Homo sapiens: one gene and its partners. The protein of the gene in region 1 interacts with the protein of each later gene in a pairwise test. Each region holds a gene or a part of one and is shown in the gene's direction. Other genes may lie near its edges.

Region 1 (7,031 bases):
CGGTCTTGCTCTGTCATCCAGGCTGGAGTACAGTGGCGCATTCATGGCTTACTGCAGCCTCAACTTCCCAGACTCAAGTGTTCCTCCCACCTCAGCCTCCTGAGCAGTTGGGACTACAGGCGCATGCCACCACACCCGTCTAATTATTTTATTTTTTTGTAAAGACACGGTCTCTCTATGTTGCCTAGGCTGGTGTTGAACTTCTGGCCTTAAGTGATCCTCCCGCCTCAGCCTCCTAAAGTGCTAGGGTTACAGGTGTGAATCACTACATCTGGCCTAAATTTAAAAAAGTTTTTAGTCTACATCCAGTGACCTATCAGGGATGCTTGTTATTTTATACAAGCTGCTTTGTTATCATATCAGCATTCTCTTCAGCCAGCTCCAAGGCAGATAGTCACCCCTCTCTCTGTGTGGTTGGGGTGGGAGCAGGCCCCGTGGAGGGAGCGGTGCTGAGGACATGTCCCTGGCGTTCCGATGCTGCTCCATCGAGGACCCCCTGGCCTCAGGAGGAAGGAGCAGGCGATGCAGCCCCTTAGTGTGGTCGTGTTGACTGACAGGTGGCTGATGCCTGAGCGCGCCCTCTTCTTCCATCTTAGGAGACACCGTGGTGAAGAGGAAGCCTGCTTCTCTGATGGCCCCTCTGAAGCGGAAGGAGGAGTTCTCCTTGTTCAAGGTGTCTGATGATGAATATAAAGTAACAATCTCGCCTCAGCTGCTCTTGGCCACCCAGCGCTTCCTGTCCCGAGGTGAGGCGGGAGGGTGGTCCATGCCCCCTGCTCTCCTCACCGTTCTGTGGGTCAGGAGGCCGCCCAGGGCCGACACTGACTCTGCTCCCCACTCCTAGCAGGCGGGTGCGTCTTGAGGACTTCTGTGTTCTCTGCAGCCCTGCCAGCATCTTGGGTCATGGGAGAGACACCTCCTCTCTGCCAGATGACCAAGAGCAGGGCCAGGCCAGTGCCACGCCTGGTGCACCACAGCCAGGGGGCCTCAGCTCTCAGCTGGGCGGATGTGGGGTGCCCTGCCCAGTTCTTTTTTTTTTTTTTTTTTTAAAGATAGGGTCTCGCTCTGTCACCCAGGCTGGAGTGCAGTGGCACGATGTTGGCTCACTGCAACCTCCGCCTTCTGGGTTCAAGTGATTCTCCTGCCTCAGCCTCCCAAGTAGCTGGGATTACAGGCGTGTATCACCACGCCCAGCTAATTTTTGTATTTTTAGTAGAGGCGGGGTTTTGCCATATTGGCCAGGCTGGTCTCCAACTCCTGACTGCAGGTGATCCACCTGCCTCAGCCTCCGAAAGTGTTGGGATTACAGGCGTGAGCCACCGCACCTGGCCCCTGCCTAGTTCTCTTGTGTTGAGGTGTTAGGGGCAGCTGCTCACAGGCCACCCGGGAGATCCCTGGTGGGCACAATAACTTTAAATTGCCTACAGTGTTGGGTGTGGTTCCACTGGCCACTAGGCCCCAGTGGACACTGTCCCTTTTTTCCACCACGTGCAGAAGTGGATGTATTCAGCCCGCTGCGCATCTCTGAGAAGGTCCTGCTGCACCTGTTGAAGCATCCCAGTGTCAACCAGGAAGTGAGGTTTGACGAGAGCAACCGGCTGGCCACACACCACTACCTGTACCAGCGCAGCCAGCCGGTGGATTACTTCATTCTCATCCTGCAGGTAGCTGTGGGTCCCAGGCCTGGAGTCCCTCCTGCTTCCTCAGGCCAGGGAAGGGTCTAGGAGAAGAGGGGAGCAGGGGCATGCGGATATGCACCCTCCCACCCCAAACAATTGAGGTGGTGGGTTTCTCCTTCCGCTGTCTTCTGACGGGAAAGGTAATCTGGCCGCATCTGTTTCTCTCCTTGCCACTCCTCCCAGGGCAGGGTTGAAGTGGAGATCGGGAAAGAGGGTCTGAAGTTTGAGAATGGGGCCTTCACGTACTATGGAGTGTCGGCCCTAACTGTGCCATCCTCGGGTAAGCCACGGCCCTGCTGATGCTGAGGGCCAGGGTGGAGGCTGCAGAGCCTGTCCCCCATCATCACTTGGGCTCTCAGTGCCCCTCCTCACCTCTCCTTCCACCTGAGCCCACCACCCCACAAGGTGGTGTAGCCCCTGGGCTTCCAGGAGGGAGGGCAGCATTCTTCATCGCTCAACTTTGTGGCCCACTCCACCCCTGCAAAACCTCTCCCGGCTGTGTTTGTCCTTCTCTCCCAGCTTCCCATGCACATTGCCTCTCCAGAGTGATTGGTGGGGTGGGTCTTCGAAACTGTACAGTTGTCCCCACCAGGGGAGGAGGCTCCCAGCTGCCAGCATGGCTCCTGCCATCACTGATTGTTCCTTTGATAGTTCACCAGTCCCCGGTGTCCTCGCTCCAGCCCATCCGCCATGACCTGCAGCCCGACCCAGGTGACGGCACGCATTCATCTGCGTATTGTCCCGACTACACCGTGAGGGCGCTCTCTGATCTGCAGCTCATCAAGGTGACTGCCTGGGCTGCTTGTGGGTGCTGGCTTTAGCCGACTTTGTGTCACCGGGGGCTAGACCAGCTGGTCTGAGACTGCCCGGAACAAGGCCTTCCACTCATCCTGAGGGACACAGACCTTTGCACCCAGTTTCCAAGCAAGGTCTTAAAAACACTTGACTCAGTTGCTCTTCTCTGCCCTTAACTAGCTTAAAGTTGTGCCTCTGTCCTCTTCGGGCACGGTGTCACCTTTCCTGCCTACCTTCTGCATCTCGCTTCACCAATTGGGTCCCAGTAACGCTGTCATCCTCCAGGTTACGCGACTGCAGTACCTCAATGCACTCCTGGCTACCCGAGCCCAGAACCTGCCACAGTCCCCTGAGAACACCGACCTGCAGGTTATTCCAGGCAGCCAGACCAGGCTCCTTGGTGAGAAGACCACCACAGCGGCAGGTGAGTGCCAAGTGGTACATCGTGCATGGTGTCTGGACCTGAGGGCCGTGAGCTCACACACACAGACTTGCACTCTCGCCGCCCCCCCACCCTCTGTCTTTTTTCTCTCTTTTCTCCCCATCCTTTTCCCTTCTTTATATATATATATCTATATATAAATAATTTTTTTTTTTTTTGAGATGGAGTCTTACTCTGTTGCTCTGTTGCCCAGGCTGGAGTACAATGGTGTGATCTCGGCTCACTGCAACCTCCGGCTCCTGGGTTCAAGCAGTTCTCCTGTCTCAGACTCCTGAGTAGCTGGGAATACAGGCGCCCACGACCACGCCTGGCCAATTTTTGTATTTTTAGTAGAGATGGGGTTTCACCATGTTGGCCAGGCTGGTCTTGAACTCCTGACCTCAGATGATCCGCCTGCCTCACCTTCCCAAAGTGCTGGGATTACAGGCATGAACCACTGTGCCCAACCCCCTTCTTGCTTTTTTTTTTTTTAATTCATTATTCAACTTGAACTTCTTGCTGTCTTTAATAGCATGGATGACACCAAACTATAGACTAACTGGTATTTAGAGTAGAGTATAGTAAGTCGGTATTTCTCTCAAGGACGTCTTAGAATGGATTGACTTAATCAGAGATTTGTTGGGAAGTGGGAATAAGTTTTAGTTCAGACACTCTTTTGGCCATTTAAGATTAAGTTTAGGTCACTTTGAGTCAGCAGTGGCCCTGGCTTAGAGGGTGTGTGGCTGGCAGACACCATCCTAGACACTAGAAGGGCATTTGTGAAGAGTTTGGTCAGTTCATACTAATATTTAAGCGTGGCCCATCCAGTGCTCCACTGCGAGCAGGAAGATTGTGTTGGAAGAAATTTTGCAAATCGAACTAAAGGTTGTGGGATATGGAACCCCATCCCCACACTGCAAGGAGGGAGGTGAAAGAGTCTGAAGTGTAGGCTGTGGGTAGGAGTGGTGAAGGGTTTCTTGTTCTTGTTTTTCAAGAAGATACTTTAATTCTGATTGCGTTCCTAAGGTTGGGGTCAGAGATATGCCTGAACTTGAGATTCCTGGAAGAGCTGGTGGGGCTGTGGAGGGAGCTGCAGGCTTGCCTCCTCCCACCCCCACCTGCCCCACCACGAGGAAGACAAGCTGTTATCAGCACTTCCTCTGCCAGGCACTGTGCTAGGAGCTTCCATGTCTAACTCTGCTAACCTCCCCGTGGCCAGAGGGCTGCTAGCTGTTCTGCCTGTTCTACAGGGCAGGAATGAGAGCCAGAGAGAAGGCCCAGGGACTCTGACCTGCTTCCTGTAGGCCTCCCGTGGAGCCACTGTGGCTGCTCAGACCCACACTCGAGAGCACAAACATGTTTTTCTAATAGTCCTTTCTGAATTGTGAGGTCACATGCAGGTGCAAGGGACAGAAATCCCACCCTGGGCCATGTGGATGCTTCAGCCCCTGTGGGCTCCAGATCTGGGTGTTGGCAAAAAGGCAGCGGGTGAGGTCGTGCTGCTTAAGTCTTGGATCTGGGGATGGGTTGCATCTCTTCCTAAAGAGATCTCTCTAAGGATGGTGCTGCACTTTTTTTTAAGAGATAAGGTCTTGCCATGGTGCCCAGGCTGGCTTCATACTCTGGGCTCAAGTGATCCTCCTGCCTCAGCCTCCAAAGTAGCTGGACGAGTAGCTAGTGCCGCACCTTTTAGGGTTGTTGAGGCTTCTGTGCTTACCCACTGTGATGGTTTCTTATTGTATGGGGTGCCCCTTCTACAGAAGTTCACATTGTCACATTACACTGGGGTCTCAGAGGCCAAGGTTTTAAAAATGGGAGTCTTTTGGTTTTGGTTCTCCCACATGTGAGCCTTTTTCTGGCTCACTGCTACTCAGACTGCACGTGTTGTAGTGAAGATACAGACCTAATCCCAAAATAATGCTCTTCCCATCACTGCACACCCGGAGATTTTTAAATAATCTTCACTGGGCCGTCCTGTAAGAGAATAGTTGATAGTGGCTTTGTGGGTCATTTCCTCTTTGTAATGGATTATTCTCTAGACACAATGTTGGTTATTTTCACTTAAGTACAACCTGACAGTTGCTTCAGTGAGGCTGGCCTGCTGTCTTTCTGTTTCTTGCCTGAACTCGGGTTGTCCTGCATTTTGTCCCGTGAGCTTGGCACTTCACTGTCCGGAGGAGCGTAGGGCCGCTGCACACCTGGAGATTTTGGTGGGGCACTGCTTAAATCATGCAGATGAGAACCAGTTTCTGGAGACCTTGGCACTAGACGCCCAGCAGAGAAGTGCCTTTTTTGAGACTTGGAAGACACAATAATTTTAAATTGCCTACAGCAGGGGTTGGCAAATAGTGGTGCAAGGGCCACATCTGGCTAGCAGCCTATTTTTGAGAATGAAGTTTTATGAGAACCCACACATCTGTTTGTAGATTGCTATGGCTGCCTTTGAGTTACAGCAGTGGAGCTGAGTAGCTGTGACAGAGACTATATGACCTACAAAAACTAAAAATATTGGTCCTTTACAGAAAAAGTTGTCTGACCCCTGGCCTACTATTTCAAATCCTGGGTAGGTCCTCCACGTCAGTTCTTCATGGAACTGTATTGCCGAGGGAAAGGCAGTCCCCACACTGTGCAGCCCTCCATGCTGTGCTCCTGGCTTTCTCTGCCATCCTGAGCCGCAGGCTGTGGGGCAGCGCAGCACCAGCACTGCAGCTGCCAGCTCTCCCTCAGCTTCCCCTGCCCGGGGCACCGGCCCTCTCCATGGTGCTGCCCGGAGCCAAGAGGCACAACCATTTCTGCTCAATAGCTTCTCCTCTTCTTTCTCTCTCTGCTCTCTTTAGCCTTCCCAGTAGACCTTTCCCTCTTTGGCACAGTTGGAAACTGCAGTTGATAAATGACTGTGGACTAGTGCGCGTTTTTTGTTTTCAGAGCACACGTAAGGTAAATATCTTCCCTCTCCCTGCCCCTTCACTTCCCTTTCCTGGCCCTTCAGCTGAGGGAGGAGCAGAGCCCATGGCTCCCCAGGCTGGGGGGCATTTTTCTCCAGGGGTGTGGGGTGGGCGCTCCCTTCCATCCTTCTGGAAGACAGGAGGGGTCATGAGACTCCTCCACTGTGGAAAATGGTGCTTCCTTCCAGCACAGGGTGCTGTATCGTCCCGGGAAGGTGCCTCTTGTTCAGCATAATGACCTGGGACCCTCGGGGCCAGAAATCCACAGCCCCAGCTTCCCCGTCTCCCAGGGAAGGCATCTGTTGGCTGACCATCTGCTAACCAGTCGCTCCTGTTTCTGCTCTGATACTTCCCAAGGCATCCCGAAGCACCTGTCTTAGCTGCCCCTTCCTGTCCCACAGAGGATTTGGCACTTGGTTTTGACAGGATACTTTACCAGCTTTGATGTTAATTCTCCTTCCCTTGTCTCCTGTAGGGTCCAGCCACAGCAGGCCCGGCGTCCCGGTGGAAGGCAGCCCTGGGCGGAACCCAGGCGTTTAACGGCTCACTAGGCAGCCCCAGATCTGGGGAACAGATGAGCACGTGGGGAGCTGGAGTGAGCTGAGCAGAAGTTTTGTGCCCGCCTGCCCCCATCCCCTCCAGGCCACGTTTTAGATGGCCCTTGTAGTTGCGGGTCCTGGGTGTCCTCAGAACTAGACATCAATGCCTGGATCCTTCAGCCGGCCCTGCCCTCCTTTAGGAGACAGGAGTCACCAGGGCACAGCCCTCCAGGCCCGCCTCAGGAAGGAATGAAAGGAATGCCATCATCTCTAGTTCCCAGGGCCCAGCCTTCCCCTTCTCCCCCGGGGCAGGGACAGTGCGGCATATTCAGATTCAGACCTCTTTGGGCTGAGCCACCTTGTGAGTGCAGTTACTGCCTTTGTGTGGCCGTGACCTCTATTTGTTTGCTTTTAATTTGCCAACCTATCGCTGCTGGCAGCACTTTTTGAGCAAGCCGAGAGCACCCATTTTGGCTGGGGGTTCAGATCGATGGCCTTGTCCATGTTGTCCTTTCTGGCTTCCCTGATGGTGTCATGTTTCAGCGCATGCGCCCCAGCCTTTCCCATGTGCCAAACCAGAAGCTCCACTGCCCGTAGGCTGTCCCTGTAGCCCTGCTCCCTCCCTGGAGGCTGCTCTTCTGATTCTGAGAGC
Region 2 (7,031 bases), on another chromosome or scaffold:
GTGCAGTATAGGTTAAGGTTTCTTATTCTTCTATGGCATATAAATATATAATTGTTCCAGCACCATTTGTTTAAAAAACAAAAACAAAAACAAAACCATTTTTTCTTTCTTTTTTTTTTTTTTTGAGACAGAGTCTCACTCTGTCCCCCAGGCTGGAGTGCAGTGGCGCGATCTCAGCTCACTGCAAGCTCCGCCTCCTGGGTTCATGCCATTCTCCCGCTTCAGCCTCCCGAGCAGTTGCCCGCCACCACGCCTGGCTAATCTTTTTGTATTTTCAGTAGAGACGGGGTTTCACCGTATTTGCCAGGATGTTCTCGAGCTCCTGACCTCGTGATCCTCCCGCCTCGGCCTCCCAAAGTGTTGGGATTACAGGCGTGAGCCACCGCGCCCGGCCTCTTTCTTTCTTTCTTTCTTTCTTTTTTTTTTTTTTTTGAGATGGAGTTTCGCTCTTGTTGCCCAGGCTGGAGTGCAATGGCGCGATCTCAGCTCACCACAACCTCCACCTCCCAGATTCAAGCTATTCTTGTGCCTTGGCCTCCCAAATAGCTGGTATTACAGGCATGTGCCACCACGCCTGGCTAATTTTTGTATTATTAGTAGAGACGGTTTCACCACATTGGCCAGGCTGGTCTTGAATTCCCCATCTCAGGTGATCCACCCGCCTTGGCCTCCCAAAGTGCTAGGATTACAGGTGTGAGCCACTGTGCCAGGCCTATATTTTCTCTATTGAATTGCCTTCGTACCTTTACTGAAAATCAGTTGACCATATACTGTGGGTCTATTTCTGGACTCTTGGACTCTCATTCTGTTCCATTGGTCTGTACATCTAAATTTCGTTCAGCAGCACGGTCTTTTTGTATTTTTAGTAGAGACTGGTTTCACCATGTTGGCCAGGCTGGTCTCAAACTCCCGACCTCACATGATCCACCTGCCTCGGCCTCCCAAAGTGTTGGAATTACAGGCATTAGCCACTGCGCCTCGCCCAGCAATGCAGTCTTGATTACTGGTTAATAGTAATCTTGAAATATGAGTCCTCCAGGTTTGTTCTTTTTTCCAAAATTGTTAGTTTCTTTGCTTTTGCATATAAATTTTAGAATCAGTTTATGAAGTTTTTTAAAAAATTCATGCTGAGATTTTGAGTGAGAGAGCCTTGGATCTATAGATCTATCAAATCTGTAGAATCTATAGATTAGTTTGAGAAAATTGACATCTTAACAATATCAAGTCTTCTGATTCATGAGTGCAGTATGTCACTTCACTGATGTAGTGTTTTGTAGTTTTCAACACAGATCCTACACATACTTTGTTAGATTTACGCCAAGTTTTTCATGCTTTTAGTGCTATAGGAAATGGTACTTTTAAAAACTTTCCATTCATTGCTGATATATAGAAATTTGATTGCTATTTGATTTGTAGGTTTACCTTGTAATATTTGAAATTTGACTTACAGATTGACCTTGTAATAAACCTTGCTAAGCTCACTTATTCTAGTAGCTCTTTTGTAGATTTGTTTGAGATTTTTTTACATACACAATTGTGAAAGAATAGAGATGGATTTATTTTTCCTTCTGGCTTGAATTGCAAGAACAATATAACATTTAAATAACATTTTGAAAAACAGTCAACCAAGATCCTACCATATTAATGTTTAATTTTTATCAGCTTACTGATTTTGTGTAGTTTAATAATTTATAGGTGGATAGAATTGTGGGTACTGCTCTTATTTTATTTTATTTTTTTAAGATATGATCTCACTCTGTCCCCCAGGCTGGAGCACAGTGGCACAATTTCAGCTCACTGCAACCTCCACCTCCTGGGCACAGATAGCCCTCCCACCTCAGCCTCCTGCATAATTGGGACTACAGGCATGCCCTACCATGCCCAGCTATTTTTTGTATTTTTTCTAGAGATGGGGTTTTGCTATGTTGCCCAGGCTGGTCTCAAACTCCTGGGCTCAAGCGATCTGCCTGCCCCACTTCCCAAAAGGATTACAGGTGTGAGCCACTGCGCCTGGCTGGTCCTGCTTTATTTTATGTTAGAAGCATTTCCTTGTGCCACATAAGGCATAGTAAATTCTTTTTATATGCTTACATGATATGTCACCGAGTAGGTAGGTGTAATCTGATTAACTATTACGTTAAAGTTGAGTGTTAAATTGTTTTCTATTTTTGGTCCATAAATATCACATACTGTGACCATGTCCTTTTTTCTTTTAAAAATTATGTCCTTGGGGCCAGGTGCAGTGGCTCATGCCTATAATCTCAGCACTCTGAGAGGCTGAGATGGGAGGCTTGAGCCCCCAGGAGTTTGAGACCAGCCTGGGCAACATAGTAAAACCCTATCTCTACAAAAATAGAAAAAATTAGCTGGGCATGGTGGCACATGCCTGTTGTCCCAGCCACTCCGGAGGCTGAGGCAGAAGAGTCACTTGAACCCAAGAAGTCGAGGATGCAGTGAGCTGTGATCACACCATTACACTCCAGCCTGGAGGACAGAGCAAGACTCTATCTCAAAAATATATATGTACATATATCTTATTTTTACATATATATGTATATATTTAATAATAATAAATATATAAATTTTAAGGATCTCTCTCTCTCTCTCTCTCTCTCTCTCTCTCTCTCTCTCTCCTTAAAATTTCTTTTGTCAACCATGATCTCATCCCTTCTGGGGATGGAAATGAGTTGGGGTGTTCTTTCAGAAAGGGCAGGTCTTGGGGAGTCCCTAAACGCCAGTCTAGATGAAGGCTTCCTCCTGAAGGGACCCAGCTGGGATGTCCATCAAGGAGTCTGGGTTGCTCCAGGCATAGCAAGTGGCATGTAGTGAGTGTTTGCCTGGAGGGACTCCTGAGAGTTGCCCATCGTGGGAGGCCCTGCTTGTCCTTAAAACGTAAAGTGGTGTTCACGGAGTTGATGCTGCTTCCTTTCGTTGTGCCTCCTCACTCTGTTGTGGCAGATCCTCAGCAGGTGAAGCTTGCAGTGACCACATTGTAGCCTCCCAAGCAGAGCCCTGATGGATCTGCTTTTGCCTCCATATCCTATTTTCTTTTTCTTTTCTTTCTTTTTTTTTTTGAGACAGAGTCTCGCTCGGTCGCCTAGCCTGTAGTGCAGTGGTGCAATCTTGGCTCGCTGCAACCTCCACCTCCCAGGTTCAAGTGATTCTCCTGCCTCAGCCTCCCAAGCATCTGAGACCATAGACGCGCACCACCACACCTGGCTAATTTTTGTATTTTTAGTAGAGATGAGGTTTCACCATATTGGCCAGGCTGGTCTCGAACTCCTGACCTCGTAATCCACCCACCTTGGCCTCCCAAAGTTCTGGGATTACAGGCATGAGCCACCACGCCCAACTCCTATTTTCTTTAGAATAGCTAGTGCCCACTGTCCCTGGTACAAACAGTCACTTGGCCAGGTGTACAGTAGCTGCCTGGGCTACCTGTGTGTTGTTCTATTTTTTTTTTTTTGAAATGGAGTTTCACCGTGTCGCCCAGGCTGGAGTGCAGTGGCGCGATCTCACCTCACTGCAAACTCTGCCGCCTGGGTTCAAGCAACTGTGCCTCAGCCTCCTGAGTAGCTGGGACTACAGGTGTGCACCACCACGCCTGGCTAATTTTGTATTTTTGGTAGAGAAGGGGTTTCACCATGTTGGCCAGGCTGGTTTCAAACTCCTGACCTCAGGTGATCCGCCCGCCTCGACCTCCCGAAGTGCTGGGATTACAGGCGTGAGCCACTGCACCCAGCCTTGTGTGTTTTTCTTTATGTGGCTCTGCCAGCCTCTCTTGCCTCTTAGAATGGCTCCATTCTTTCCTCAGCTACCACTCCTGACTTACCCATGCTGCTCTCTGGCTGTTAGCATCTCTCTTACCAACAGGCAGATCTCCATGCCTGAGCAGTGCCTGGGACTGCAAGCCTCTGTTCCCTGTGCTCAGGGGATACATAAACAAATGGATGAGAAGCCTGTTTTGGTTTCTCCAGCCCAAGAGTTTTTGTTTTGTGAGCTCTCTTGTTAAACATAGTGGTCATCAGCAGTTCCTCAGCTTCTCTCTGATTTCTTCCCATTCTTTTTGTGCACTGGGTCGTGGAGGAACCCAAGTGCAGGACGACAGCCTGCCTGTTCTCTCTGGCTCATCTTTTCAGTTGACTTACACTCTTCCTGCTGTGGTCTGGCTTCTGCCACTTATTGCCCTGCTGTCTGTCTCACTGAGCTTCGGTCCCCTGCCCTGGGATGAGCATGTCCTCTGCGGGGCAGAGATGACATGGAATGGGAAACAACTGTTGGGTCTCACCAGAGACCCAGGGAAAGGGGTCACCTGCTCTGTGCCCTCCTTTGGGGAGGAACTGTGTGTTTGACTCAGAGTTCCCAGGGGACTTTACACTTTGTCACTTCTCAGTGGCTTTATGTTACTGAAGGAATGAGGTTTTATCATGTGTTGTGATTGAATCCAGAGCATATTAAGTTGATAATCCAGATTGTTCTCTCCACAGCTTTTCTCAAGCGAGGGGTTGCTTCTTGGGCTTCTCTCACTGATGTGTTCCAGCACAGCACAGTCAACAATTCAAGGGCTTGTTGGCCCTCCCTTTTAAGGCAGACTCTTGGGAGACTGGGGTTGGGTTTTCTGCTATAAACTGATTAGCACTTAGCTTGGGGTGTGGAGGTCACCTTCTAATTCTGGCTCTTAAAGGGAGGAGTATAGGAGCCAAGTTCCTTAGTTGAGAGTGTTGGGAACAGAAGGATCCTTAAATAACAGATGCTCAGAGCCACAGGCAGCCAGGCACCAGGGCAGCAAGTGGCCTGGGTCATTTGCGCAGTGCTCGCGAGCTCAAGGCTTCTCGGTTAGGGGAGGTGCAGCCTGCTCTGACCAGTCAGGTCCTGGGAATAATTGTCTGCGCCTGAATTATGGCCTTGTATTGTAAGCAAGTATAGATGTAACTGCCCTTTTACTTTTTGTAGGATATGGAACTTGGAACTCTGGGACAAATAGAGGCAAGTGTCATTCCTGTGATTGCTGTCCTGTCCCTTGGGGTTGTCCTGGCTGTGTTTCTCTGCCACTGCCCTGCTTGGCCAAGGTTGGGAGTGGGGAGGGGGCATGTTTCTGGGGTTACCTACTCCTTAACAGGAGGCCCTCATCAGAATGACCAGGGCCCATCTAGCTTCAGTGGCTAGGGTCTTCTCTCTCTGTGACAGAAGATACCCTTGTATCTGTGTTTGTCTCTGTCTCTGTCTGCCTCCCCTCTGCCTGCCCCCACCATCTGTCTGTCTCTGTCTCCCTCACTGCAGGCTACGAGGGCTATGGCTATGGCTATGGCTATGGCCAGGATAACACCACCAACTATGGGTATGGTATGGCCACTTCACACTCTTGGGAAATGCCTAGCTCTGACACAAATGCAAACACTAGTGCCTCGGGTAGCGCCAGTGCCGATTCCGTTTTATCCAGAATTAACCAGCGCTTAGATATGGTGCCGCATTTGGAGACAGACATGATGCAAGGAGGCGTGTACGGCTCAGGTGGAGAAAGGTGAGTGGACACCTGCCTAGGGGTTGAGACTCTGCAGGGGCGGCTCCTGCCTGCTGCCCACTGCGTTTTCCTCTCTGAGTGCCCCTCTGTGTCTGCTTCCTCCCCGCTGCTTGGTGCTGCTGTGGCTCCCAGCAGGGTCCGTTGCACTTCCCGTCTCTGACTTGTGTCTCCTCTCACCCACCCTCAACCCCTGCCGCACTGCCTGGTGGTCAGCCTTTCCCAGCTTGCGGTGAGAGGAACAAGCCCAGACTGGGCAGACTTCACTGTGCCCTCAAAAACAGAGTGTTCAGCCACCCCTCCCTCCAAGGACAGCCATTTGGAATTCTCTCGAGACTTTGCCTCCTGCGTGGTGTCAGGGCAGGACAGATGGAGTTTGGTGTGAAGGGTGGGACGAGCGTTTGGGGCTGATCACTGCGAGCTGGGCCACCCCCACGTAAGGGTCGGGGCAGGTGTGGGCATTTCCTGGTTACTCTCCTGTGCCTTACAAACATGTACCTGATGGAAGCACTCCTGTGAGGAACTGCTGCTGTCCTCATTTTGCAGGTGGGGATACAGAAGTGCAGGCAGGTCATACCCTGAAGGCACGCAGCAAGTACTTGGTGGGGCTGGGCCTCGCCTACCAGATCTGCCCTACTCCAAAGCATCATGCTGTGGGCATTTGTTATTAACTGAACTGGACTTGGCCCAGGAGTGCTTATGCCCAGTGCGAGGCTTTGGTGAGGAGCGTGGGTGTATCTCTAACATGGGATAGAGTGGAGCACCAGCTAACAGATGAGTGAGAGCCAAGAGTAAGGAGTTGCCTGGCTGAGCACTGATAGGGCCAAGGGAGGCCCCAGGGCTGTGGTGGCAGGGTGTGGAACAGGCACAAGGGGATTTGATGCCATGGGCTCTGTAACTCCTGGCCCAACAGCTGCAGCACTCAGAGCTGAGGGCTTGGCATGTGAGGCTTGGCCTTGCGTTGCTGCTATGCACCTTCTTACCACAGCCTGGAGCCTGGGATCGGGGTAAGCAGAGCAGCGGCAGCACCAACTGCTGCTCTTAGAGCTGCCGGTGCCTCTTGGTGGCCCAGGTTTAGGGAAGAGTGTGCAAGGGGAGCCCCTGTGCCTGTGAGGTGTGTGGGGTCCAGGCCTGTAGGGGTGTGGGCTGCGGGCTGCAGTCACGGTTAAAAGAGCTCTCTGCGGTGCCCTCTGTGTCCTGGGAGGAGGTCTGGCCTGCCTTCCCAGTTGCAATACAGGGTATATAGAGTTTGGTGTCTGGCTCTGGGCTCCAGGGTTGATGTAATACAGCTCTTTTTCTTGTCCCTGGGCAAGCTCTCAGTGTCTTCCCTGGGAAATACTCCCCCTTTTGTCTCAGTTGTTTTGGTAATGAGGGACTTTGCAGAGTTTGAAGGTTCCCCAGCCATGAGGGACAAGAACAGTGTTTCCCATGGGTATCATCAGCCTCACTGGCTGCGCATTCATTGTGCTGGACCTGCCTGCATCCTGCAGGGTGCTGGGGTGCTCAGCCTTGC
Region 3 (5,359 bases), on another chromosome or scaffold:
ATGTAAGAACAAAGCTGGGAATTGAGAAACTATGCAATGGGCATGTAAGACTTGGCACAACCCATAATCTCTGAGCTAAGGAAGGGAATAAAAACAACCTTCCACATTTTGTGAGGCCAATATGAAGAATCTAAAGAAATGAAAAACTTCTTTTTCCACGGAAATCAGAAGAATGTAAGAAAGGAGCAAGGTAGAACTTGTGCATTCATAGAAGACATAATAGACAGAGGTTGGTGCTTCGGGTCCTGAACTGATGTAAGATAACCATTCACTCATGAAAGGATTGATTGATGCTGGCTCTGAGAGAAATTGAAAAGTCGGGGACCTGGGGCACCTTCTTGGGGCCTCCTACCAGCAGGGGAGTGGTAGAAATACCTCTGATGAGCTAAAAATGTAGATTTCCATGACAGATGCCAACTTCCGAGACTGTGAATCTAGAATGCTCTGAAGACTTGGCTAAGAGACAACAGCCACTTACTGTCATCATCGTTCAGGGATGAAGTAAAGGAGATGAAAACTAGGACATTCTCTTTGACTAGCATCAGTTATGAAAGATGAATAAGTTCAGTAGGTCTAATGTACAGTAATATGACTATAGTTAAAAACACTTTATCATATACCTGAAATTTACTGAGAAGGTAGATCTTAAATATTCACACCAGAAAAATAAAAAGGAAATGGTAACTAAGTGACCTAATAAATATGTTATTCACAATCAATATATATATCAGAGCATCACCTTCTATACCTGAAATGTACACAATTTTTGTTTGTCAATTATACCTCAATACAGCTAGAAAAAAACGTATTTAGTTGATCTATTTAATTAATACAAAAATATTCTTATCTTCAACATAAAACTTGGGAATTTTCTGAACAAAAAACACTAATTCTGTGTTGCCTGCTCTATGATGGGTACTGGATAAATGCTTTGTGTACATTATTATTAACTATTTAACAAACTTTCAAAATAGGTATTAATGTTCCTCTTGTAGAGATGAGAAATTTGAGGCTGAGTTAACGTATAGTCATAGATGAGTTTCTCCCAGAAGAGACTCTGAAAAAAAATTCCAGTGAAACTAGTTTACTGGGAAGTGCAGATCATACTGGTAGGGACTGGGGAAGTGATACAGAAAAGGGTACACTATTAAGTCAGTTTCACAGTCACCAACTAAAGCTTAAACTAAAGTGAAAATTATCAGAAATGATGAAAAACACATAGCTGGTATTATCCTACTTCAGGAATGAGGAAGCTAGAGTCTTTATAAATCAGCTCTCCAGAATCATTGGTTGAGTGTTTTTCTCTGTATTGCATTCACAGGTGGCATGACTTTCTACAGCTGCAATACAAGAGCCCTTAGGCACAGAGATGCAGATTTTGACAGATAGAAATTGATCCAAGCACACTAACATGCAAGATATACGGGTGCAGTCATGAAAACTTGTCTACGATCTACAACTAGCTCCACTCAAGTCAAATATTTGCTACTTAAATAGAATGGACAGCCACAAGCTCTAGGAGAAAGAAGAAGAGGAAGAGAGGAAGCAGAGGAAGAGAAGGGACAGAAGATGAGAGGAGAAGGAAAGAGAAAAGAAGGAAAGAAAAACAGAAAGACAGAGAGAAGGAAGGAAGGAAGGACGGACAGGAGGGAGGGAAAAGAGGGAGCAGGGAGGAACCGAGGGAGGGAAAGGAAGGAAGGAAGGAAGGAAGGAAGGAAGGAAGGAAGGAAGGAAGGAAGGAAGGAAAGAAGGAAGGAAGGAAGGAAAGAGATCGAAAGAAAGAAAGAAAGAAAGAAAAAAGAAAGAAAGAAGAAAGAAAGAAAGAATAGAGAGAGAGAGAAGGGAAGGGAAGGGAGGGAGGCAGGAAGGGAGAAAAAGGAAGGAAGGAAGGAAAAGAAAGAAAGAAAGAAGAAGGAAAGGAAAAGAAAGGAGAGGAAGTGAGATATAAAATGAAGGCCAATTAAATAATCTACACTTACTTCTGCTATAATACAGTGCACCTAAGTTTCATAAACTCCGTTAATTACCAAGAGTTCTATTCTCCCTTCACCCCTGGCCAGCACTCTTTTTGGTCTAGATAACTGCTGATAGAGTAGCTCAGAGCATCCTTCCTGAAGGGTCTGAGCCCCTGGTTACTATACCATTGTCCACCGTGATTGCTGTTTTTATTCATTTGTGGTTATCACTGGGCATGGACACACTATGAGATTCTGCAGTGTTATGGGTTCATTTGCGTCCCTCAAAATCCATATACAAATAGAACCATCTAAAATGTTATCTGATAAGACAAGGTCATATTGGAAACAATTAGGCCTCTGATTAAATATGACTGTGTCTATTCACAAGGGAGAAATTCAGAGACAGTATGGATATAATAGAAAAATTATGTCAAACACACTTGGAGATGATAGACTTCGACACGTCAGGGAGGGAGACCTGGAACAGATACTTCCCTCGCAGTCTTCAGATGAAAACAACATTGCCAACACCTTAATTTCAGAAAAGAGGCCTTCAGAACTTTGATAAATAAATTTAAGCCACTTTTTTTCAGTAATTCATCAGGGCAGTGCTAGTAAATTAATATACTCAGTAAATCTCCTGAGCTATAGATATATTCTGCTACACTATATGGCTTGAGGGTAATTATCCCTCACCAAATAGTAACTACTTTCTCTGTCTGCTGCTTTGCTTATATGAAGAGTCCAAAATGACTAGGCGATAAAGATTACTTTTGTTTATGCCAAAGAAATAGAGAAGCAAATACTATACTTTTTATTCACATGAAAATTTTAAAAAGCCAAAAGTTACCTACAGGATTACAACTGATAGAGTGATTAGCTGTCTTTGGGAAAGAGTAAGAGCATATAATTGGGAGAGAATGGAATTAATTTCTATTTCCTAACATAGATGTAATGGGACATAAATGTATTTACAATATAATACTATATCAAGTTGAAAATTAATAGTTTGCATTTTCTCAAATGAATGGTATACCTAGAAAATGTTTTAAACATGTTAGAACTCCATGATGAATCAGGCATCATCTCAACTCATCTAATTCCTTCATTAAAAAGAAATAGAGAGAGAAGACATGATGCTTACTGTGCTGGTAACTGGGTTGCAGCTAGAGCCAGAGCACATGCTGGTTGGCCTGAATCTCAAGCAGTTATGTCATAGAGAGTCCTACATTCTCGTCCTGGAATCGCCACACTCACAGACAAGTCAGAATGAATGGTCACTCAGGGCATAGTTTGCTTGATGTTGTCTAAATCCCAGTGAATTTCTCTGCATCCCCCTGCTCTCGATCTGCTCTGCCACATGGAACACACTGTGACAGACACCCTCTTCCCAAGTGACGTTCAAATAACGGAAAGGCACAGGTGGTGAGGGTGGTACAGAGAGATGCCTGTTAGTCTTGAGTCAGAATTTGGTGGGTGACTAGCCTTGGGCCCAGGCATGGATTCATTTTGTCACTGTAAATATATCAGCATCATGCTTCTCCCCACAGACACTTCCCAGTCTATATACAGCCAAACATGAGGCTGGCCAGAGAGCTTCCTGAGCCTCCCAGATCAACAGGAACTATCACATGACTAGATGATGGTCAGAATAGGAATGATGCTGATGATGAGACGGGCTTCCTTTTATCTCAAACAAAGTGTCTATGAGTAATTCACAATTAAGAAACAGATTAAACCTTAATCTGTTTAACCTTAAGGAAACAACTACCCTTTGAGAATCACAAACGGACTGTGGAAAACAAGATAAACAGCAACAAGGAAAAGTCCTGCTGATTGGTGGAAACTTTGGAGGCCAGGTGTATAAAAGGTCCAGAATGCAAGGGGTCATCAGATTCTGGGAAACTCACCTCTGAACAGAACTCCACCCTCTACCCCTGACACCATGACCCACTGTTGTTCCCCTTGCTGTCAGCCTACGTGCTGCAGGACCACCTGCTGGAAGCCCACCACTGTGACCACCTGCAGCAGCACACCCTGCTGCCAGCCCTCCTGCTGTGTGTCCAGCTGCTGCCAGCCTTGCTGCCGCCCAACTTGCTGTCAAAACACCTGCTGCCAGCCCATCTGTGTGACCAGCTGCTGCCAGCCTTCCTGCTGCAGCACACCCTGCTGTCAGCCCACCTGCTGTGGCCAAACCAGCTGTGGGTCCAGCTGTGGTCAGAGCAGCTCCTGTGCACCTGTGTACTGCAGAAGAACCTGCTACCACCCCACGACTGTCTGCCTGCCTGGTTGCCTAAACCAGAGCTGTGGCTCCAACTGCTGCCAGCCCTGCTGCCGCCCAGCCTGCTGTGAGACCACCTGCTGCAGGACCACTTGCTTCCAGCCCACCTGTGTGTCCAGCTGCTGCCAGCCTTCTTGCTGCTGATCACGTTCCAAGAGAACCACCATCCTCACACAACAAATTTCTGCTCAACTGACTCATCTTTTGGGGGACTAATTTAATTTGCTGCTGACAGCCACCATGCTCTCACCCAAATTTTTATGAATTCTCTACATGTTTAAAATCTTGGAAATCTGCTTGAGGGAGGGCAGAATACTTCATCCTGATTCTCTTTTTCCTTACACCTTGTGGATCATGTGCCAGCTTCATCTGTTCTCAAGTTTGAGTCATGGTCTCAGCTTTGACTCTAAAGTCAAGAGCTTCATTCCCTGCTTCTAAGGAATTTAGGTTTCTGCAACTGATCGATGATCTTTGCAATCTTTTTTTTGTTTTCAATATCCTCCTCATCGTTCTTGTATCCTTCTTTCTTCTTTTCATGATAAATTTGTGTTGTGTCCCTGGTAGCAGAAATCCTTACCTATATGTTTCTGAATAAATTCTGAACCATCCTCATCTCATATAGTGTTTTGTTTTATTTGAAAGCACTCCTGATATGGGATTTACACACATATCACATACCATAGTTATTATCCAATTTGATTCTCAAAACAGGTGGTCATGCATTATTACCTTCATTTTTCACCTGAAAAAAAATTAATATGTGATGTTATGTAGCTAATAAAGGACAGATTCTGATCCAAGCTGAGGTCCTCTCTTTCTGCCCAAGGACACTTACATTTAACTCTCAACATAGTAGAAATGACATTGGAAGTCAGCACTAGCAAGACATGCACTTGAGTTTATTTAACAATGAGAGGAATGATCTCTTATATTTGCAGATAACATTTTTGTTCACAAAAAAGTTTTCCCAAATAAGTTTCCCACACCTCAGTGAGCAACAGCTGCATGATATGGCAGCAGGGACTGCATTTAATGGCTGCCCTGAAAGCAGGGATCTCTTTTTGTCTCATCCTCTGACCAGTCATTCATTCAATTCATCTGCATCAAAAAATGCTTGAGA
Region 4 (7,031 bases), on another chromosome or scaffold:
TGAACATGACCTACCAGCCTACAACACCCAGTAGCAGTTTTCAGGATGTTAGCGTGTTCGGTATGGATGCGGGGTCCCCCTTGGTAGTTCCACCCCCTACTGATAGTGCACGCTTGTTGAACACGTCCCCCAAAGTGCCTGACAAGAACACTTGCCCCAGTGGGATCCCCAAGCCTGTCTTCACACATTCCAAGGACACACCTTCCTCGCAGGAGGGAATGGAGAACTATCAGGTTGAAAAAACAGAGGAGAGGACAGAAACTAAGCCCATCATTATGCCCAAGCCCAAGCATGTGAGGCCCAAGATCATCACCTACATCAGGAGGAATCCCCAGGCCCTGGGCCAGGTGGACGCCTCGCTGGTTCCAGTGGGGCTTCCATATGCCCCGCCCACATGTACCATGCCTCTTCCCCACGAAGAGAAGGCAGCAGGTGGTGACCTGAAGCCATCTGCCAACCTCTATGAGAAATTCAAGCCAGACCTGCAGAAGCCAAGGGTCTTCAGTTCCGGATTGATGGTGTCTGGAATCAAGCCCCCGGGACATCCTTTCAGTCAAATGAGTGAAAAGTTTTTGCAGGAGGTAAGAGAATGTCATTATGATATGGTCTATAAGTTGACTGTCCCAATATCTGTGACATATTTTCAATGAGTTATGAAAGTAAAATGTCCTCTTTAAGTGAATTACAGATTTTCATGGATACACTTGTGAAGAAATGGAGTTTTTGACTAGAGGAGATTGTCTAGAGAAATGACCATTTTTAACTAGAAGAGTCTGATTATCTTAATAAGATGTACCCAATATCTAAGGAGACCCATTTAAATTTCACTTGCTATAATTCATATGAAATTAGATGAGTATGCCTTAAATAGGCTTCCATGTTTAAATAAGTGAATATAATATAATATAAGCCAGGTTAAAGGAAGAAAGAATGCAAAATTACTGTGTTCTTCAAATAGATCAGACTCATTCCTCAATGGGGAGTATTTTCTACCTGGGAGTATCTCTTATTCGCATGCGTGAAGAACAGCAAATGAGCAGAAAACGGTGTGTTAGGCATGGACTCTTTCTTTAAAATAAAAGTAATAATTACAACTAACATATAATTGAGGGCCAGCTCTACACTGGGCCCATATAATACAGCGTTTGATCTTTGTTAATCTTCACTAATCCTTGCAGTAATTCCCTGAGGGTTGGTATTGCAGTTTTTTGTTTGTTTATGTTTTTTTTGGCTTTTTCTTTGTTTTTGAGATGAAGTCTCGCTCTGTCGCCCAGGCTTGAGTGCAGTGGCGCGATCTCGGCTCACTGGAAACTCCACTTTCTGGGTTCACGCCATCCTCCTGCCTCAGCTTCCCTAGTACCTGGGACTACAGGCGCCCGCCACCGCGCCTGGCTACTTTTTTGTATTTTTAGTAGAGATGGGGTTTCACCGTGGTCTTGATCTCCTGACCTCGTGATCCGCCTACCTCGGCCTCCCAAAGTGCTGGGATTACAGGCGTGAGCCACCGCGCCCAGCCGGTATTGCAGTTTTTATCACCGTATAGATACAGAGACAGACAGAGAGCTTTAAGTCACCCACCACAAAGGAAGGAGAGCTCTGAGAGTCTCACTCAGGCCTGTGCAGTTTCAGACTGCACTGTGCTGTCCTTTTTAGCTATGGTGAGTCATCCTTCGAGACCTCAGAACTAAGATTTGTCTCCTGAAGGAGTCTCTTCATGACAGCTGAGTGATCAGTTAAAAGTAAGGCAGGAGCCAAGGACAGCGGCTCACACCTGTAATCCCAGCATTTGGGAAGCCGAGATGGGCAGATCACAAGGTCAGGAGATCGAGACCATCCTGGCCAACATGGTGAAACCCCGTCTCTACTAAAAATACAAAAACTAGCTGGGTGTGGTGGCATGTGCCTGTAGTCCCAGGAACTGGGGAGGCTGAGGCAGGAGAATTGCTCGAACCCAGGATGTGGAGGTTGCAGTGAGCTGAGACCACGCCACTGCACTTCAGCCTGGCAACAGAGCGCGACTCAGTCTCAAAAACAAGGGCAGGATGAGATCATCCTGTCTCTAACACCTTCCAGGGCTGCCCAGGTTGCTTGGAACACAAGCTGGAGCCTGTAGGATGGCTCTGCCTTTAGGATGGGATGTGCTCACTGGGGGTCCGTCAGCTACCTGCCCTCCTCTCCTTCCACTCTCCCTTTCTCACTCTGCTGCTTCAGGACCTTTGCACCTCCCTCTGCTTGGAATGTTCTCCCAGTTATCCAGATGGCTCTCTCCCTCACTCCCTTTAGGTCTGTGTTCCAATGTTATCTCCTTGGGAAGGCCACCCATCTTCTCTCTGAATCCCTTTTCTCTGATTTATTTCTTCCTAGCACCTACCTCCACCTGCCATAAATACTTTTTTAGTTTTCCTGAATTGACTATAATGTAAACTCCATGAGGGAAGGGATTGTTTTCAATATTTTGTTCCCCGTGTTCCCAGAATTTAGAATGGTGCTTCTTATAAGTATGTGCTCAAAAAATGTTGAGTGATAACTGAATCATGAACTCCATATGTGTTGGAACTAAACAAAAGTGTACCAAGGGTTTCTAGAGATAGGATGATTGAGTCCAAATTTGGACTCTAGCTTGGTTAGATATATTGGCATATTTAAAGAATGCATCAATCACAACAGAAGTTGTCATATCTAGCACAAAGACAAAGTTGAATCCATTCTCGGCAGCAGACATTGACTTAGGCAATCACTGACGAGGTGCCCCAACAAGCCGACCAGCTGTGCTGCCTTGCCGCAGGTCCTTAGCAACCAAATCACACAGCTTGCTCCCTGTGTTCTGACTCTGGGCCTGCCAACAGGCCTCTGATTATAACGGACTTCCTACCTCACATCTCTAGAGAGAGGATTCTGGCTGGAGAATTCAGGGGTCCAGTCAGCTTGGCAGGGGTTTGTCTTGCTGTGCGGGGCTGCATGGCATCTTGTTTATAAGTGGCTTCTTACTCTGTGCCCTGCAATGAGAACGTGTTCTGGCTAGAGGACACTTGAGTCTGGCTTTAGGCAGTGGTCTCCAATTAAAAGTGAACAAATTGCCCTTCTGGATTTTTACGTCAGTCTCTGAGTTTAGTTATAGTGAGTCATTTTCAAATTTCTAAACATTCATCCACCTGGGCCTCTGAGGCTCAGGGTCAGGCTCTGAAGCTTTGCTCTTCTATAAGGCAGGGAATCACTGCAGAGGTTCCATGAAGAGACCTGTCAGTCCATTTGTGTTGCTATGAAAGAATACCTGAGGCTGGGTAAATTATAAGGAAAAGAGGTTTATTTGGCTCATGGTTCTGCAGGCTGGAGAGGAAGCATGGCACCAGCATCTGCCTATGGTGAGGCCTCAGGCTGCTTCCACTCAAGGGGGAAGAAGAAGGGGAACCACGTGTGCATTGATCACGTGGTGAGAGATGAGCAAGAGGGGAGTGGAGGAGGTGCCAGGCCTCTCTTTAAGGACCAGCTCTCATGGGAACTAATAGAGCAAGAACTTGCTCATTACCAAAAGGAGGGCACCAAGCCATTCATGAGGCATCTGCCCCCATGGCCCACACACCTCCCACTAGACCCCACCTCCAACATTGGAGATCACATTTCAACATAAGAGTTGGCACAGACAAGCCAACCATATCCAAACCATAGCCAGAGCCTAGATTTTTCTCTATAAAAACAAACTCATGAGGGAAATTGATTTGGATATGTAGGCCCAAACCCCACATTGTCTGTAATTCTTTCTTTGTGCCCTTCTATATTTTCGTGTATATTTCTTTTCTGTGTTGTTCTGCTTCCTCCAAGAATAGTTTATATATTACATGCATAGTTTTCCCCAAACTATTTTCTCTACTTCATTATCTAGGCACCACGTCAAGACTCAAGGAAATGGGATTGTATGGACATTGTGTGGCTTTGGCGGTTCTGAGGGGTTCAGAGAGACCCCACTGGTGTGGAGAGAGCATCATGGCCTCGCACCTCGAGCATCCCAAAGTCTTCTTCAAAGAATTTATTTGTTTTTGGGCCTCGACTTTACAAGTTCGTTTGAAATGTCAGTTTCCCTCCCTGTATCTGGGGACCATTTTCTGCCATCATCAGAACGAGACCCAGGCCTCTTCTCAGGTTGCGCTGGGCTCATTTCTGTGGTAACCTTCTTTACTCAAAAGTGGGGAACAGGCTGGTCCTTGGCCACCTGCTACAGCTATGACATGATGTAACCCAGCGAGTCCCCCTCTTGTGTTTGAGCTCAGTGCAGGGAGAAAAAACAGCCGACTTCTTCTGCCAGTGTGCCCCAAGCTCATCATGGGGTGGCTGCAGTCTGGTCTCTAGGAAAAGAACACATTTTTGATAATGTGTTGCAATGGAAGTATTTTTCAGTTATAGAAGCCAGATTTTTTTTTAAATAAAATGAGAACCTCTTAAAAATAAAAACTCAAACCAGCTTCAGACTCTTCCATCCTTATCGACAGATCCCTGCTGGTTACATAGCATGGGTAGAAGTGGAAAAATCAAGAGTAAGCACTCTTCTGAGAGAGGAACTCTTTTCCCAATTGGCAGGAACAGCACAGGCATTTAAAACTTCCAGAAGTGGCTTCCAAGATCATCTGGGATCTAGTCATGTCCAGGTATTAAATATGTTTACCTAAACAGGTGCCCTCTGCCACTGGCTCTCCTGAGGTCTCAGGGACACTCCCTCCCTCCAACAACTTGGGAGCCCTTTTTATTTTTGGTAAAGGGAGGTGGGAAGAAAGGGGCTTGGCTGAGAGGATGGAGTGAGGCGATGTGCGTGCAGTGTACAGAGGTGTGATCCAGGGCTGCTCTCCTTCCTCACTGTCTGCTGCCACTCATCTCTGGGGGGCACTGCATCGATTGGGGTTTGCCAGACAAATAGAACTAATAGGTGTGTGTGTGTGTGTGTGTGTGTGTGTGTGTGGTGTGTGTTCACAGGTCTATATTCATCTATACTTATGTCTCTCAATATATATTATCTATATATGTTTCAATATATATATCTCATATGTAGAGACAGATATAGATGTATATATAGAGAGGGTACATCACATAATCTCTATATATATATATAGAGAGAGATTGATTGACTGATTGATTTTAAGAAATTGGCTCATGATTGTAGAGGCTGGCAAGTCAAAAATCTGCAGGGCAGGACAGCAGCCTGGAGACTTAGGGTAGAGTTGGTGCTGCAGCTTGGGTCTGAAGGTGATCTACTAGCAGAATCCCCTTTTCTTTAGGAGGAGTCAGTCTGTTTTTATTAAACCCTGCAACTGATTAGATGAGACTCACCTACATGCTGAAGGGTCTGCTGCTTTATTCAAGGTCTGCTGATTTAAATGTTAATCTAATATAAGAAATACTTTCATGGCAGCATCTAGAATGCTTGACCAAATATCTGGGTATTGCAACCCCACCAAGTTGACACATAAAATTAACCATCCCAGACACCCTTCCCCCACCACTATCCCAGTGGCTTGTTAACAAAGCCTTCACCTGTACCCTCTGTCTCCACGGCACACTATCCCATTGAGGACAGTGCAGGGCAAATAGGAAGAGGGACAGCCTGGTAAGAATGTATTTGTTCATATGCCTTGACTTAACGAGTTTGTTTGAAATCATAGGGTTCTTTTGTTTGCTTTCAAAGTGAGTTCTCTAAAAACCCTCCATTGGGATGGAGGGAGGGGAACAGCAACGTTTGGGGTTTCCAAACGTTGTTTTATGACTGTGCAGCATCACCTGCTGTATTCTGTCAGTAAAGATGAAGGAAAAGAGTATGAAGCTTTCTGTAGATTCCCTTGTTTAATTAAAAATGCACAGACTAGACATCAAAGGCGCAGTTTTCCCCCTTTTAAAGAATTTGCGATCTCACCAGAAACAAATTACCCAACAAAATGACAGGCATTGAAGTTACTGAAATCCTTAAGATCATTGTTGAGAGAGAATGTGGTGAATTTTAATCCCTAAAAACAACTCAGTTTCAAGGCACTGAGTAACTACTAAGATCAGCATATTGCAATCCTAAAACCTGACAGATGTAGTTTGGAAATGATATTAATTTCTTCATAAGAGCACCTGCTCAAAGCAATGTGCAATGGGACCCAAAATTTAGAAACTAAAATTAAAAAAGGGTATATATGAGAAAAACCAGAGATTGATAGTGAGAGTAAGTAGAGAATGGTAAAAAATTTATCAGAGTGCAGATGTAGAATGTTCTTTCATAGGAATATAATTTGCTATAGCCAAGGACTATCTACTATAACAGTCATGCATATTTTACAGTGTGATTATGATAAAACTTTAAAGGCCTAATCTTTTGTTTCTACAATGTCAATTTGAAGGAGGACTTTGTATCTATTTCAACATTAAATGAGTATCAATTTAAGGGTTTATCTCTTCAACAGCTTGGATCAAAGCTTTTATAGCCCCCATTAAAGAATACTGTTAAATGCTTATGATTCCTGAGATATAAGTTTGACACATAAAATGTGCTGTGATTTAGAACAGAGTTAATTAACAGATGTATCTTTTCATGCATGGCCCTTAGCACTATTTTTTATTGTAACTTAAAGGAATAGTTTATTTAGTTCTCTCTCTTTTTTTCCTGTTTAATATTAATAAAACACTGATAATATGAACAGACTTAGTGAGTACAGAATTGCATATATAAAAGGTACTGCCCACAGGTTGTATTCTAGGCCAAACTGCTAGCTACAGGAGAAAGTGACAGTAACGTTATGTTATTATTAAACTTAGGAAAAAATGGAAACATGATTCTTCAATAAATATTTATTGACTTTAGCTATGTGCTAGACATTGTTTTTGGTGCTATGAAGTCAGCGGTTGATGAGATTGTGCCCTAGAACTTCCATTCTGGTGAAACTTGCTCAAACCTTCCTGGGAGCATCGCCTCACTCGAGCAGACGACCAGAGGAGATAACTCAGGCTCAGGTTTTTAACTAGGTAAACACATAGTACAGATCTGAAAATACATTTTCCATTAACTT

Evidence for each region.
Region 2: the proteins of CNNM3 (region 1) and AKAP8L interact in binary tests that used the Homo sapiens proteins (3 or more experiments, as listed by UniProt).
Region 3: the proteins of CNNM3 (region 1) and KRTAP9-8 interact in binary tests that used the Homo sapiens proteins (3 or more experiments, as listed by UniProt).
Region 4: the proteins of CNNM3 (region 1) and MTUS2 interact in binary tests that used the Homo sapiens proteins (3 or more experiments, as listed by UniProt).

What each region holds. Positions count from the first base shown.
Region 1 is NC_000002.12:96,826,237-96,833,267, forward strand, and holds part of CNNM3 (metal transporter CNNM3 isoform 1 precursor), read left to right. Parts: intron 1-596; coding exon 597-746; intron 747-1,494; coding exon 1,495-1,664; intron 1,665-1,862; coding exon 1,863-1,959; intron 1,960-2,330; coding exon 2,331-2,464; intron 2,465-2,759; coding exon 2,760-2,898; coding exon of another isoform or gene 2,899-3,056; exon of another isoform or gene 3,057-5,732; coding exon of another isoform or gene 5,733-5,782; exon of another isoform or gene 5,783-6,315; coding exon 6,316-6,380; 3' UTR 6,381-7,031. UniProt on the Homo sapiens protein: Probable metal transporter.
Region 2 is NC_000019.10:15,401,965-15,408,995, reverse strand, and holds part of AKAP8L (A-kinase anchor protein 8-like), read left to right. Parts: intron 1-4,953; coding exon 4,954-4,986; intron 4,987-5,280; coding exon 5,281-5,521; intron 5,522-7,031. UniProt on the Homo sapiens protein: Could play a role in constitutive transport element (CTE)-mediated gene expression by association with DHX9. Increases CTE-dependent nuclear unspliced mRNA export.
Region 3 is NC_000017.11:41,234,149-41,239,507, forward strand, and holds KRTAP9-8 (keratin-associated protein 9-8), read left to right. Parts: upstream 1-3,850; 5' UTR 3,851-3,903; coding exon 3,904-4,383; 3' UTR 4,384-4,856; downstream 4,857-5,359. UniProt on the Homo sapiens protein: In the hair cortex, hair keratin intermediate filaments are embedded in an interfilamentous matrix, consisting of hair keratin-associated proteins (KRTAP), which are essential for the formation of a rigid and resistant hair shaft through their extensive disulfide bond cross-linking with abundant cysteine residues of hair keratins.
Region 4 is NC_000013.11:29,026,323-29,033,353, forward strand, and holds part of MTUS2 (microtubule-associated tumor suppressor candidate 2), read left to right. Parts: coding exon 1-581; intron 582-7,031. UniProt on the Homo sapiens protein: Binds microtubules. Together with MAPRE1 may target the microtubule depolymerase KIF2C to the plus-end of microtubules. May regulate the dynamics of microtubules at their growing distal tip.